Homo sapiens: one gene and its partner. The protein of the gene in region 1 purifies or fractionates together with the protein of each later gene. This does not show direct contact. Each region holds a gene or a part of one and is shown in the gene's direction. Other genes may lie near its edges.

Region 1 (7,539 bases):
CACATGGGTTTCGTAACTCCCCAGTGGGCTCATCTTGCCTGCTGCCTAGATACAGCCCATTTATCAAGACACAGGAATTATAATACAGAGAGCGTTTAATACACAGAGAGCTGGCTAAACCGAAGACTGGAATTTTTTTTTTTTTTTTTGAGACAGAGTCTTGCTCTGTCACCCAGGCTGAAGCGCAGTGGCTCACTGTGACCTCCCGCCTCCCGGGTTCAAGCAATTCTCCTGTCTCAGCCTCCTGAGTAGTTGGGATTACAGGTGCATGCCACCATGCCTGGCTAATTTTTTTTTTTTTTTTTTTTTTTTTGTATTTTTAGTAGAGACGGGGTTTCACCATGTTGGCCGGGCTGGTATCAAACTCCTGACCTTGTGATCCACCCACCTCGGCCTCCCAAAGTGCTGGGATTACAGGCATGAGCCACCGCGCCAGGCCAGAGTTTTATTATTACTCAAATCAGCCTCCCAGAAAGTTTGGGTGTTTCAAGGATAGTTTTGTCCATGCCCAGGAATGACCAAGGGAAGTTTGGAAGTTAAAGGCAAGATGAAGTTGGTTAGATCAGATCATTAATGAAAGTGGTCTAACTAAATGTTAGATCGCTGTTAACAATGTTTGCAAAGGCGGTTTCAATTCATTCCTGAAAGTTCACATTTTGGGAAAAGAAAATTTCCCAAATTTTGCAGAGGGATGGAGGGTTAGTTTCCTTAAAAGATGGGAAATGTGTATTTCCTTTCCCTCTTCAATCACTGTTGCTAGGTTCAAGTAACTCTAAGGTGCCTCCTCCCCACAGCGTACTGGGGACAGGATCTGCAAATTATCACACCCAGTCTTATCACCAGTTATATAACCTGTAGGCCATTCTCTGACCTCTAAACCTTCCATATCCATTGTTTTGTGGGCTCTCAGCATCACATTCTTTTTCTTAGTCTCTTATTCATTGTATGCCTGCCTCACTCCATGCCCCATAAGGGCATAAATATTACTGATCTTTTTAGCCTGGCCAACATGGGGAAACCCCATCTTTACTAAAAATACAAAAATTAGCCAGGCATAGTGGCACATGCCTGTAATCCCAGCTACTTGGTAGGCTGAGGCACGAGAATCACTTGAACCCAGGATGCGGAGGTTGCAGTGAGCCAAGATCATGCCATTGCATTCCAGCCTGGGTGACACAGTGAGACTCTATCTCAAAAAAAAAAAAAAAAAGAAAAAGAAAAGAAGAGAAAAAAAAATTACTGGTCTTTTAAAAAATTTTTGACATTATTTCAGACATACAGAAAGGTTACAGGAAAAGTTCAAAGAATACTTGTATACTCTTCCCCACTTGTTAATATTTTACATTTGCCACTTGTTTTATGGGTTTTTTTTTTATGTATATACATTGTTATGGACTGAATTGTATCCTCTCCAAAATTCAGTGTTGACACTCTGACCTTGGAATGTGACTCTATTTGGAAATAAGGCCTTTAAAACAATGATTAAAATGGTTAAAATGGGGCTGTTAGGGTAGGCTCTAAATTAATCTGATTGGTTTCTTTATAAGAGGAGATTAAGACATTCGGAGAGGCCGGGCATGGTGGCTCATGCTTATAATCCCAGCACTTTGGGAGGCCAAGACAGGTGAATTCCTTGAGCCCAAGAGTTCAAGGCTTACTTGGGCAACATGGCGAAGCCCGGTCTGTACTAAAAATACAAAAAATTAGGCTGATGTGGTGGCGCATGACTACAGTACCAGCTGCTGGGGAGGCTGAGGTGGAAGGATCACCTGAATCCAGGAGGTTGAGGCTGTAGTGAGCTGAAGGCGCACCATTGCACTCCAGCCTGGGCGACGAGAGTGAGACCATGTCTCAAAACAACAACAAAAAAAGTAAAATAATAAAAGATATTCAGAGAGAGACGTCAGGGTTGCATGTGCACACACAGAAAAGGCCATAACACAGCAGGCATGCAGCCCTCTGTAAGCCAAGGACTGCAAGCCTCAGGAGAAACCAATCCTGCCAACACCTTGACCTTCGCTTCTAGCCCCCAGAACTGTTAGAAAATACATTTCTTTCTTTTTTTTTTTTTTTTAGATCGAGTCTCACTGTTGCCCAGGCTAAAGTGCAGTGGTGCGATCTCGGCTCACTGCAACGTCGGCCTCCTGGATTCTAGCAATTCTCCTGCCTCAGTCTCTCAAGTAGCTGGGATTACAGGCATGTGAAACCATGCCTGGCTAATTTTTATATTTTTAGTAGAGACAGGGTTTCACCATGTTGGCCAGGGTGGTCTCAAAATCCTGATCTGAGGTGATCCGCCTGCCTCAGCCTCCCAAAGTGCTGGGATTACAGGCGTGAGCCACTGCACTCAGCCCATTTCTGTTGTTTAAATGACTCAGTCTGTGTTATTTTGTTATGGCAGCCCTAGCCAACTTATACATACAAAGCATTATTTTTTTCTGAACTATTCAAAAGTAAGTTACAGACATGGTCCTTTAGTACTAGAAGCAAGTGCAATATATTCTCTTACATTACTGCATGCGATTAGCTAACACTGATAAAATGCTATTAGCTAGTTGCAGACTTTATTCATATTTTGCCAATTGTCCTATAATGTCATCTATAGCAAAAGAGAGAAAAAAAGAAGCAAGAAAGAGAAAAAAAGAAAGACAAAAAGTTTTGGGTCCAGAATCCAATCCAGAATCAAACAGCATTTAGCTGTCATGCCTAGGCTCCTTTAATGGAGAACAGTTTCTCATTCTTTGTCTTTCATGGCCTTGGAGCTGTCAAGAGTACAAGCAATTTATCTTGTAGAATATCTCTCACTTTGGGCTTGTCTGATATTTCCTTGTGAATAGATTAAGATCTACTAGTGTGTTCCAAAGCTTTACAACTGTTTTTTTTCCTGGACAGTTTTAACATTCTAGGTCTGTGATCTTTCTTCTCAATGTGAAATGAGGAATCTGTAACCGTTTTTAGGAGACTCATTGGTTTAGGAAAATCACCTTATTAAATTTACAGACTTGTTAAGAGCTACGAAGTGATGTGTCTCCTCAATGGATCCTATCAGAAGGCATATATGTGTGTTCCCTTACTGGGTGGTGCTAACTTTGATCACGTGGTTGAAGCAGTAACTGTCATGTTTCTTCACTGTAAATTTACCATTTTCCTTTCCTTCCTGGAGGCTAGAAGTAAAGGTCAAGGTGTTGACAGGATTGGTTTCCCCTGTTCTTTGTTTGTTTGTTTTGTTTTTTGAGACAGAGTCTTTTTGTTGCCCAGGCTGAAGTGCAGTGGCACAGTCTCGGCTCCCTGCAACCTCTGCCTCCCAGATTCAAGCGATTCTCATGCCTCAGTCTCCCCAGTAGCTGGGATTACAGCGTCCGCCACGATGCTCAGATAATTTTTTGTGTTTTTAGTAGAGACGGGGGTTTCAACACATTGGCCAGGCTGGTCTCGAACTCCTGGCCTCAGGTGATCCGTCCGCCTTGGCCTCCCAAAGAGCTGGGGATTACAGAAGTGAGCCACCGCGCCCTGCCCTCCTTAAGTTTCCTTGCGGGAGAGATACTTTGAGACTATGCAAAAAGTTTGCGGGAAAAAATACAGGAAGCCCAGTTGAATCTGAATTCCAGATAAGCCATAAATAAAGTATAAATATGACCTCCCAAAGTGTTTATCTAAAATTCTGATTTGATTGGGCATCTTGTGTTTTTATTTGCTAGATCTGGCAACCCTATATGTAAATATCTTGCTCCTCATCCAACTTTCACCCAGTTGTTTTGACATCTATTGCTGCTTCTGAATCAGGGTTGCACATGCAACCCTGACGTCTGTCTCTGAATATCTTTTATGATTTTACTTTTTTTGTTGTTGTTTTGAGATATGGTCTCACTCTCGTCGCCCAGGCTGGAGTGCAGTGGCGCGCCTTCAGCTCACTGCAGCCTCAACCTCCTGAACTCAGGTGATCCTTCCACCTCAGCCTCCCCAGTAGCTGGTACTGTAGTCACGCGCCACCATGTACTGATTTTGGAAAATGGTGATTTTCTAACTCCATCATTCCTTTTACTTCTGTTCGTTGGCATTCTATCAGCTTGTCTTTTCATCCACCCTTTACAGTGCTTGGCACACAGTAGGCGCTCATATAATTGTTCAACGAATGAATGAATGAACTTTTCTCTTGTGTTGTCCGGCCTTCGGTGACACTAGCGGCGTCAGGCAGGAGTTTGACTTCCTCAGCCTATCATGGCACGTTGCCGAGGCTTCAGCGCCTTACAGGACCTCGCTCCAGGCTCTTCTGGCTCCAATCAAAAGCAGGGCTCTTTCGGACTTCGCTTACGTTTAATAAAGAAAACCGGTTGGCCCCTTCGGCTCCACCTGGCTCAACAGACAGCCAGTGGCATGCGGCAGGGACCAATGGGTGGCGGAGGGAGGCGGGGCCTGCCACGAGGCCGCAGTATAACCGCGTGGCCCGCGCGCGCGCTTCCCTCCCGGCGCAGTCACCGGCGCGGTCTATGGCTGCGACTTCTCTAATGTCTGCTTTGGCTGCCCGGCTGCTGCAGCCCGCGCACAGCTGCTCCCTTCGCCTTCGCCCTTTCCACCTCGCGGCAGTTCGGTAAGAGGGTCACAGAGCTCGGTCAGCGCGGAAAGCTGAGGGGAACGGAGGGCGAGGGGCACGCCGGGCCCCCGAGGGACACCGAGGGAAGTCCTTCCCGAACATCTCCGCCCCGGCGGTGGTGGCCGCTGAGGGGTGTGGCGGGGCGACGTGGCACCGAGCGCCGCCGCAGCTCTCGACTGGGGCGCTTCCTCGGCGCGGAGGGCTGGTACCCGAAGCCCGCCTTTCGGAGGGAGCCGCTCTCCTGCGACTCGGGGCGTCGCCGGGGCCCGTGGCCAGTCGGCGGGCGGGACGGGGGTGGCGTGCGGAACGCGAAGGCATCAGTTTACGCGGAGCCTTCCGACAGCGCCGGCCGCCTCTGGCTGGGATGCTGAGAGTCGTCTGGGGGAGAACAGGCGAGGGTTCCAAAAGAGCAGCCCTCGGCGAGTTGTCCTTGCGGGGACCCTAGCGGCGGAGGGCGCTGCTGCAGCTGATGAAATCGCGGAGCCGACTTGCTCGGGGTCCCCGCGCCGCCCTCCTCCCTCCGCCGGTGGGAGTGGCCCGCGCTGCCTCCGCTCTGCCAGGAACATGAACGGACTCTGGGCACCCTAGCTTTGGCTGCAGCCCACCAGAGCCTGTCAGTGCCGGGCTGCGTACATAGAGGTGGCAAACATCCGGGAGGCTCCCAGGGCCTTAGGGAAAGGGGGAATGGAGAGTGACAAGTACCCATATTTCAGCGGTACTTGCAGAATTTCAGTTTTACAAGATGAAGAGTTCTGAAGATGGATGGTGGTGATGGTTGCACAACATATGAACGTATTTAATACCACTGAACTGCACTTAAAAATGGTTAAGATGGGCCGGGCGTGGTGACACGCGCCGAGGCTGAGGCACGAGAATCGCTTGAGCCCAGGAGTTCGAGGCTGCAGTGAGCCGTGATTGCACCACTGCCCTCCAGTCTGGGCGACAGAGCGAGACCCTGTCTCAAAAAAAAAAAAAAAAAAAAAAGTTGATAAGGTTTATGTTATGTGAATTTTACCACAATAACAAAATTGGGAAAAATATACAGGGGAGGAGGAAAGGAAAAGCTCTGTTTGCATTTTTGGGTTTCCTTGGGAAGGTGATTTGGTCGGTCATTAGAGCGCTGGCATTGTTGGCATTGTTAGAGCCCTGCACCTTACAACATCAGCCCCTTCTTTTTTTCATCTAACGTTCACTGTGTACCAGACACTATGCCAAGCTGTGCGAATTCAAAGATGAGAAAAACTGTTCTTAATGGAGCTCATGTTCCTGACAAGGGGCAGAACACGCGTGTAATTTCCAGTCAGTGCGGAAATGCTGTTAGAAATATTTCAAAGGCGCTGCTTGTTGGAGCAATGAGTTCTTGAAGGAAAACGTGGGAGGGGACTTTCAGGGTTTTCCCTGGTCTGACTCTTGACCTCCCCCATGTTTCGTTACTGTGTGTTTTCTCCCCTTCTCCCTCTTCCTGAGTGCTGGCCTCATGTGACTGTGGACCAGACCTTTCCTAGGCTTCCATGGTCCAAAAGAGATTTATAAAGATGCTCTCATTCATTACCTAAAGAACTGGGCCAGTTTGTCTACACTCTCCAATAACAAATGCTCTTTTCACTACCTTTCTGAAAGAACAAGTAAGCTTCATCCACATCTCTGAAAGCAATCCATATTATCTGTACTGCACATTTGCTATTTACAATTCCCACATATTGCTTTCTTACTGCTGCTTATTTTTTAAAATACTGTTTATTTTTAAATACTGCTTATTTTTAAAAAGTTGTATCCTTTTAAAAATATGAGTCTGCATTCTTTTTTTTTTTTTCTTTGTTGGATGGTATGAGAGTTTCAGGAACATAAACCTATGGTTGGAGAAATAGTAGCCTAGGAGACAGTGGGATTAGGAAGTCAATGGACTTTAGAGGCAGAAGTTTGCCTTTGAATCTTGTTTCTACTATCCTCAGTTTCATCTTCTGTATTACAGTGTTATTATAATAGTCCCAAGGTAACAGAGTAATATATGTTAAAGTGTAAGCAAAACACCTAGTGTTTAATAGATGTTTGTTCCTTTCTCCATTATGTCTTCCTTCACTCATTATTTTTCCCATTAATAATTGATAACAACTCTTCCCTAAATCACTTGATTATGAATTGTAAAATGTCCTGATACTAATTTCTCATGGAAAATTACAGTACTGTAAGCTATTGAATTAAAAGGAAAGTGAAGATGCTACTCACTTGGATTTTAGTTTTGAATTTTATTTTATTTTTTGAGACGGAGTCTTACTTTGTTGCCCAGGCTGGAGTGCAATGGTGCAATCTTGGCTCACTGCAACCTCTGCCTCCTGGGTTCAAGCTGTTCTCCTACCTCAGCCTCCCAAACAGCTGGGACTATAGGCGCACACCACCATGCCCTGCTAATTTTTGTATTTTTAGTAGAGACAGGGTTTCACCATGTTGGCCAGGCTGGTCTCGACCTCCTGACCTCAAATGATCCACCCACCTTGACCTCCCAAAATGCAGGGATTACAGGCATGAGCCACAGTTTTGGATTTTATTTGAACAGTCCTCTTGACTTCTTCCTATTCTGTTGATTACCTATCTTAATGGGATTTTTTTCTTTCCTTTTTTTTTTTCTTTTTTGGCAGGGGAATCTCTCCCTAGGTCAGGTTGGAGTGCAGTGCTGCAATCACGGCTTACTGCAGCCTTGACCTCCTGGGCTCAAGTGATCCTCCCACCTCAGCTTGTGAGTAACTGGGACCACAGGAGCATACCACCATGCCTGGCTAATTTTTTTTTTTTTTAACTTTTAGTAGAGATGGGGTCTCACCATGTTGCCCACGCTAGTCTTGAACTTGGCCTCCCAAAATGCTGGGATTACAAGGCCTGTGCCACCATGCCCAGCCCTGGGAATTTTTTCTAAACACATCTGTGAATGCATTTAATTCTGGGATAAATGT
Region 2 (7,000 bases), on another chromosome or scaffold:
TTTCTTTTCTCTCCCAATAGATATGCTATTTTTTTAATTAAATCTTTAAAGGAAGACCTTTCGGTTTCTACAGACTTGCTGTGGTTTTAGAAATGGAAATGGTGGACTCTTTATTCTGTTATCCAGCCTTGACTGGCAAGAGTCTAGAGTAAGCTCAGGGTGGGAGCAAGAGACTGCATTTGGGGCATCTTGAAGGTACAGCAGTACCCCATGGCGGCTTTCCATTCTAGGGCTTTGCTGCAGAACTAATGCAGAGTAGTTAGCATCAGAAGTTCCCTATTTTTAGGAAGTTTCTTGTTGGGGAGGAAAATTATGAAAGCTAAGATCACAAAGAAAAAGGTTCTCCGGTCATGCTGACAAGGTCTGATGAGAAAGCAAGCAAAAATGTGCTCTCCCCCTGAGGAGATGGATAAACTGAGAAGGCAGCTTGTTGTCATGTAGGCTATTATGCTTTAAGAGTAGAAAAATAGCCTTGGACTCAGAAAATTAGAGGAGTGACCAGAGGACCAGTAGGTTACCATGTCTGAGGGCTTAGAATAGTTTCCTAGTCAGTCAGTCCGGTCTGAATAATCTTAGAAAATGCTTATGGCTTTAAAGGTGAGCTGTAAGTTTATGTACTCACTAGTAGACTGGAGAACTTATTGTGTTCCCAGCACTGTTCTAAGTGTTCTGATACATTAGTGCCCAAACAGACAGACCCCCGTCTGAAGGAGCTTAAGTTCTTATGGGTAGAAAGGATATAAATAATCAAGATAATAAACCTAAGCAATTGAGGCACGGGGGCTAAGAAAGGAGTCGGTGCTCAAGAGCCAGAAGGTAGCCCTATTCCCTGTGGAGCTGTTTTTCATTTCATTTTACTTAGAAGCACAAGGATAGTGGTACAAGTTAATTTCTTTTGTTCTCTTGAAATTCACCCTCATCAATCTTGGATATATGTATTACTTAAAGGAGTATCATTTTATATTTTTGCTTAGGGTCATTGTACTATTTCTTGTAGCTCATTTTTTTTGCAATTATTTTCAACTATTTATCTAATTTGATGTTTCATATTTTTTCCCCTAACTTTTAAAAATTAATGTGTATCCTTCATTTTCCTTGGCATCCCTGAAGATAATTGGGGAAGCCCTTTTGTTTCACAAAACTTGAATTTCTTACTAGTACAGATGAAGAAGGCACAAATTAAGACACAGTCTTCTGTGTCTTAATTTCGTCATCATGTCCACACCCTAAGCTGTTGCGCTTGCATTTTGTTGCAGACTTTCATAGCTGTCTCCCACTGTTGCCTTACTTGAAATTTGCATAGTTACAATGCAACAGCTTTTAATGCCTTGATTAAAACATATATGTATTATAAAAATCATCATTTCCTTCTTTCTCCTTTCTCCCCAGCAATTCTTCTTCCCCAAATCATCAGGGAGATGGAGCTTCACAGACCTCTGGTGAAGTAAGTATCTTTCTCCTAAAACTATCTGATGCTTTCAGGGTTCTACATTTTAAAGTTTTGGTTTTTGTGCAAATGTATGGAGTAGGTGAGAAGTTTTGTTACATGTATGGTAATGTGTGGTAATCGAGTCAGGATATTTTGGGTGTCCATCACCTGAGTAGAGTACATTTTTTTAGGTATAGTCATCCTACTCTGCTACGAAATACTGAATTTACTCCTTCTGTTTTATTGTATGTTTGTTTGCACCCTTTAATCCAGTTCTTCTCATCCTCTCTCTTATCCCTCACCCATTCTTCCCGGTCTCTGTTACCTATTTTTCCACTCTCTCCCTTCATGTGTTCAAATTTTTTTAGTTCCCACATATAAGTGAGAATATAAGTCTTTCTGTGCCTGGCTTATTTCACTTAAGACAATGAAATGTTCATGTTGTCCATGTTGCTGCAAAAGGTGATTTCATTAGCAGCGGCATGATTTTTCTCTTTTTTTATGGCTGAATAGCATCCCATTGTGTATCATGTTTAAGTTTCTGACAAGGGCCTGCATCATTTGGGTTGCTGGAGTCAGACTCATGCTCTTTTTGGGTGTTTTTTACTTCAGACTCCGAGGCTTTCTGTGTTTTGTTTAAATGTTCTAAGTCTGAATGGTTCCTTTTATTTATGTTCATTTTCATTGTTAATAGCAAATTCAGCCTTCAGCTACGATCCAGGAAACACAGCAATGGCTGCTCAAAAACAGATTCTCTTCCTACACAAGACTGTTCTCTAATTTTTCAGGTATGTGTATGTGTGTGTGTATCTGTGCATGAGAATGTTTTGTTTTTGTTTCTGTGCTTTTATTAACTTTATATTTTTAAAATTTTGAAATAACTATGGATAGGAAGTTGCAAAGAAAAATGTACAGAGAAGTTCTTTATATCTATCCCCCAATAGGAATATCTTGTATTTTTATTATATGCTATTGAAGCCAGGCAGTTGACATTGGTTCAGTCAGCAGTTTTACCAGACTTACGTGACCTCATTTGTGTGTAGGTGTATATAGTTTTACATGATTTTTTTCATTTTAACTTTATTTTGAAATAATTTTTGTTTTACAGTAAGTTACAGAGCTAGTACAGTGATATTTCGGTGTACTCTTCACTCCGTTTCTCACATAATTATAGTACAATAGCAAAACCAGGAAACTGACATTGGCACAACGTATGTTATGGTATAGATATTTGTAACCACCACCACAATTAAGATGACAGGATTGTGCCATCACTACAAGGATCTCCCTCCTGCTACCCCTTCGGAGTCACACCCACACCCTTCCCCCACCATCCCTAGTCCTTGGCAACCACTTTACATTCTGTCTATAATTTTGTCATTTTGAGAATGTTATATAAATGCAATCATATAGTATATAGCCTTTTGAGATTGGCTTTTTTTCACTAGCATAACGGCCACCTAAGTTGTTGTGTTTATCAGTAGTTTAATCCTTTTTACTGCTAAGTAGTGTTTCATAGTCTGAGTGTACTCAATTACAGTTTTTATATACTTATGGGTAAGTTTTTTTTCTTGCACAGTAAGCTAAGGGAATGTTAAGAAGGAATTTTAAAAGGTATCAAGCACTGCTTCTCCAGGTAGTGCTATAGGAAACCTGTTTAGAGGGACAGTAATAGATAATGACAGGTGGGGCAGAGGTAGCATTTCCCAAATATATTTGGCTCTGGGACTCTTTTCCAACATGACCACCTAGTAACATGGCCTGGCCAAACATCCTGAGAAGTGCTGGATCACAGTAAAGTGGTAGTTAGCATTCCTTCACCTGCAGTGCAGTAGGGCCATTAAAACACAACTTTGTGAATCCCTTTAAGAGGACAGAACTTGTGTGTGCACACACTCAGCCTGAAGAAAAGCTTGATTTTGCTAAGAACATGGTTTCTTACTATGCCACGTATTGTAATGTTTGTGCAATGAGTAGTTATTCCCCGTGTACTTCTTTGTCTCTTTAAAGTTCCCTATGGAGGTCATTTGCTAGCTGGGGACTACATTTTTATATGATTAAGTAAAGCCTTTTATGTGTGAAAAACTAGAAATTGTAAAATTTCAGGGTCGGGGAGCTGGGGTTTGTCTTGCACTGTTGTATGGAAGGCAGATGAAAAGCATAGCACATAGAAAAAGCGCCGACATTTGGAACTGAAGGAGGCCCCACATTACTCCTTTTACATCAGGCAAATCCATGTTTCTATCTGGTGAGTTTTAATCCCTTTCGCTGTGAGCAGTGATCACATGGCGTGGCCTTCTGCCTTTTCCTTATCCTGGGGGCTTCTTCCAAGAAAGTGGGCGAGGAGCTAGCCATGGTACCCTTTGGGCACATCTCCTGAGTCACAGCACTGACAGTAGCATGGTGAGGAGGACAGTGAGTCTTCTTGCTCTGATCCTTGGGGGCATTCACATTTCAGGAAGGGTTGTACATTGCAGTTATCTGTCCAGTTCTCTGTATGGGTTAAGGGTGTGCACACACATACACAGTACTCTCTGGTCACAACTGTGAGGTGCATGTAGTAAGCCCTAGTAGAGAGATGAAAGAGAGCCTCTTTGCTTACCTGACTCTATAAAATGACTCTATTAATGCTCATGTCTCATGGGAGATGTGCTTCTCTGATCTTTGTTTTACAGACTAGAAATTTAGTAGGCTATTGCATTTGAGCCTTTAAAAAATAGAAAGATGACTCCATTATCTTCTACATATGTAAGTGGCTATTTATCATATGGAAGTCAAGCCTTCATCCCAAAGTTCATCTTAATTCCCCCAATAAACTGTATCCTGGGTGTTAGAGAATAAAACAAAAGATTATGGATACATTCAGACATTAAAAAGTAGAGAGAATATGATGAACTCCCATGCAGCCATCTCCTACCTTCAAAAACTACCAGCATTTGGTCAGTCTTGCTCTCCACTATTTCCTCTCCTGCCTTCTGTTGTATTTCAAAGCAAATCCTAGATGCCATATCATTTATGCTTGAAATACTGAATAGTAGTTCATGGTGTGTATGTACTCAGGTATGGCTTTTTTATACTTATATGTAAGTTTTTTTTTCTTGTATGGTAAGCGAAGGGAGTGTTCAGATAGAATTTTTAAAAGTGTCAAACACTGCTTCTCTAGGTGGTGCTATAGGAAACCTGTATAGAGAGACATTTACACTTGTAAATGACATCGTAAGTAGGATGTGCTTGGGGGAAATCTTAGGGTATAATGTGTGATTCTCTGCCATTCTTCTGTTAAAATTAGCTGCTGTGACAGAGTTGTTTATGTTATAAAATTTAACATGTTTGACTTTACATTGCACGTTTCAGAATAAAGAGGCCCAGTCCTAGTTCGGCTACCAACTCTTACAGACTTTAGGCAAGTCCCACAAACTCTGGACTTCCATTTCCTTTTTTTTAAAATTAAAGATTGACTGGCCCGGGTGATCTCAGGGTTTGTTTCTGTGGGGTGGGTTAGAATCATGTTTCTTCACATAGCCACAACCCAGTCACTAAATAAGGTAGATGAGTGAAATCCTATATCGGGAAGAGTTCTTTAGGCCCTGCTCTCATTGATTTGATTCATCAGCCTCAGGACTTCTAAGCTCCTTCTTGATACAGGACATGGAAAAGCCAGCATTTTCCTTGGCTCTGAAGGACAGGTGTCTGTTTGTCTTCTTATATTGTTCATGTGTATGTGTGTATTCAGGATATCTGATTATTTTGAAGGACATTGGACTGCATGAAGACAGATGCCTGTAAAGCAGTTCTGTTCTTTTTCCATTTATTTGAGAAAAATATTTTTGCTCTTCTCTAGGTGCCGACTTATTAAAACTGACAAAGGAGGATTTAGTTCAAATTTGTGGTGCAGCCGATGGAATTCGGCTCTATAATTCACTGAAGTCAAGGTAAAATACTGTGAACTGTTTTGCTTGAAATAAGAATGTACCTTTCTTCGCGTGGGGAATTTGGGCAGAATGTGTTTCCACGCTAGGTTGGCGTGTGTGCCTGTGTGCGCCATCGAGCATTGGCAGCATTGTGCTCACAAGAAGACTGTTTTGTGTACACCTTCAGGGCAGGCCCAGATATGATGCAGGCACTGATGAGGGCAGAGGTAGACTGTAAGACTGGTAGAAATGCACATGGGCAGTACTGATTTCTTGAAGACGACTGGGTTTGTTGCCAAGAAAACAAAACTTCTAATTTAGGTGAGCTATACAGAATCTATGGTTTTCAAGGTCATGACTATTACTAAACAGTTATTAAAAATGTAAACTAATTGTGAATTAAAATGACAGAAACTGTAAATTGTGCTGGCTTGTAAGAACCATTTACTATCATTGCTCTTTCTATACTTGTGGTGTGAGAATTCCATTAAAATTGAATCTTACTGATTTTTAATTTGCTGACTTAATCTTGAAACTTAAATTTACCAGCATCTGACAGACCATCTCAATGGTTTAGAGTCTGGATCATCATATTAGACCACCTGTGATAGTTGGTGTGAGGTGTGTGGTTTTTATATTTTTATTAGTAAATTACTTTGTATAACGAAATAACATTATAAAGTTCTCATAAGGAAATAGAACTTAGATTCCTGTAGTTGTCATATTTGTACATGTGTAAGGCAGCTTTCTCTCCCAGGCTCATCAGTGGCATCTTCTGATTGCAGGTCGGTTAGACCCCGTTTAACCATCTATGTCTGCCGGGAGCAGCCAAGCAGCACAGTGCTGCAAGGGCAGCAGCAAGCTGCAAGCAGTGCAAGCGAGAATGGCAGTGGGGCACCCTATGGTAGGTATTGAGGGCATCTCAATTCTGTCACTTCTGAGACTGTCAGACAGAAACGGAAAGGACTCGATTGAGCAGGCTTTGGAGAACTCTTGCTGTGTTAGGAATGCCAAGTTGCTCATGTGGGAGCCTTGACAGCAATGAGAGGTGGCAGCTCTAGGGTGAAGTCCTTGGGAGAAGAGGAAACTGGCATTCTTTCTCAGTCATTGCAGCCACACTATGGGTCTGTTTTTCATGTGGCCCTTCATGCCGGAAATATCTAACAAGTGGAAAAACTAGCTTGAATGCATTGAGTTCTGGCTTTTTTTTTTTTTTGGTCAGATTTACTGAAATGATGAATATAACACTGGCAGCTTAACAAAAAAGCAGGAGGGTTTTTCTTTCCTTTTTCTTTTTTTTTTTTTTTTTTTTTTTCAATTTTCCTGACTAGGTATGGGGAGAACTCTTAAAGCATAACATATGTGCAACAGTGCCTGCATGTAATAGTCCTAAGTGTGTGGACTTGTCACTGACAAGTGTTCGGCCAGCATTGTGCACCTTGTGTGGCGCGTCTGGTGCCGTGTTTTTATGTCACTGTAAATAATACTACCCAGTACGTTATCTTGGGAGGGCTTCTCATCCTGAGCATTTAATTGTACGGTATAGTGCTGGATTAGGACAGAGATAATCTTGGCTTCTCCCTCTTCTCACCTCTAAATATGGCCCTTAAAAAAAGCAAGCATTTTAAAAGGCATATATTTTCTCATTTATTGTATGGAT

What was found. The genes of interacting proteins can lie anywhere in the genome.
Region 2: the proteins of MTHFD2 (region 1) and UBP1 purify together in Homo sapiens (affinity purification with mass spectrometry; 2 studies listed by BioGRID and IntAct, with this or other methods). This does not show direct contact.

What each region holds. Positions count from the first base shown.
Region 1 is NC_000002.12:74,194,155-74,201,693, forward strand, and holds the start of MTHFD2 (bifunctional methylenetetrahydrofolate dehydrogenase/cyclohydrolase, mitochondrial isoform A precursor), read left to right. Parts: upstream 1-4,460; 5' UTR 4,461-4,487; coding exon 4,488-4,588; intron 4,589-7,227; exon of another isoform or gene 7,228-7,325; intron 7,326-7,539. UniProt on the Homo sapiens protein: Although its dehydrogenase activity is NAD-specific, it can also utilize NADP at a reduced efficiency.
Region 2 is NC_000003.12:33,395,406-33,402,405, reverse strand, and holds part of UBP1 (upstream-binding protein 1), read left to right. Parts: intron 1-1,389; coding exon 1,390-1,444; intron 1,445-2,123; coding exon 2,124-2,217; intron 2,218-5,270; coding exon 5,271-5,361; intron 5,362-5,527; exon of another isoform or gene 5,528-5,661; intron 5,662-5,889; coding exon of another isoform or gene 5,890-5,896; exon of another isoform or gene 5,897-5,949; intron 5,950-6,125; coding exon 6,126-6,244; intron 6,245-7,000. UniProt on the Homo sapiens protein: Functions as a transcriptional activator in a promoter context-dependent manner. Modulates the placental expression of CYP11A1. Involved in regulation of the alpha-globin gene in erythroid cells.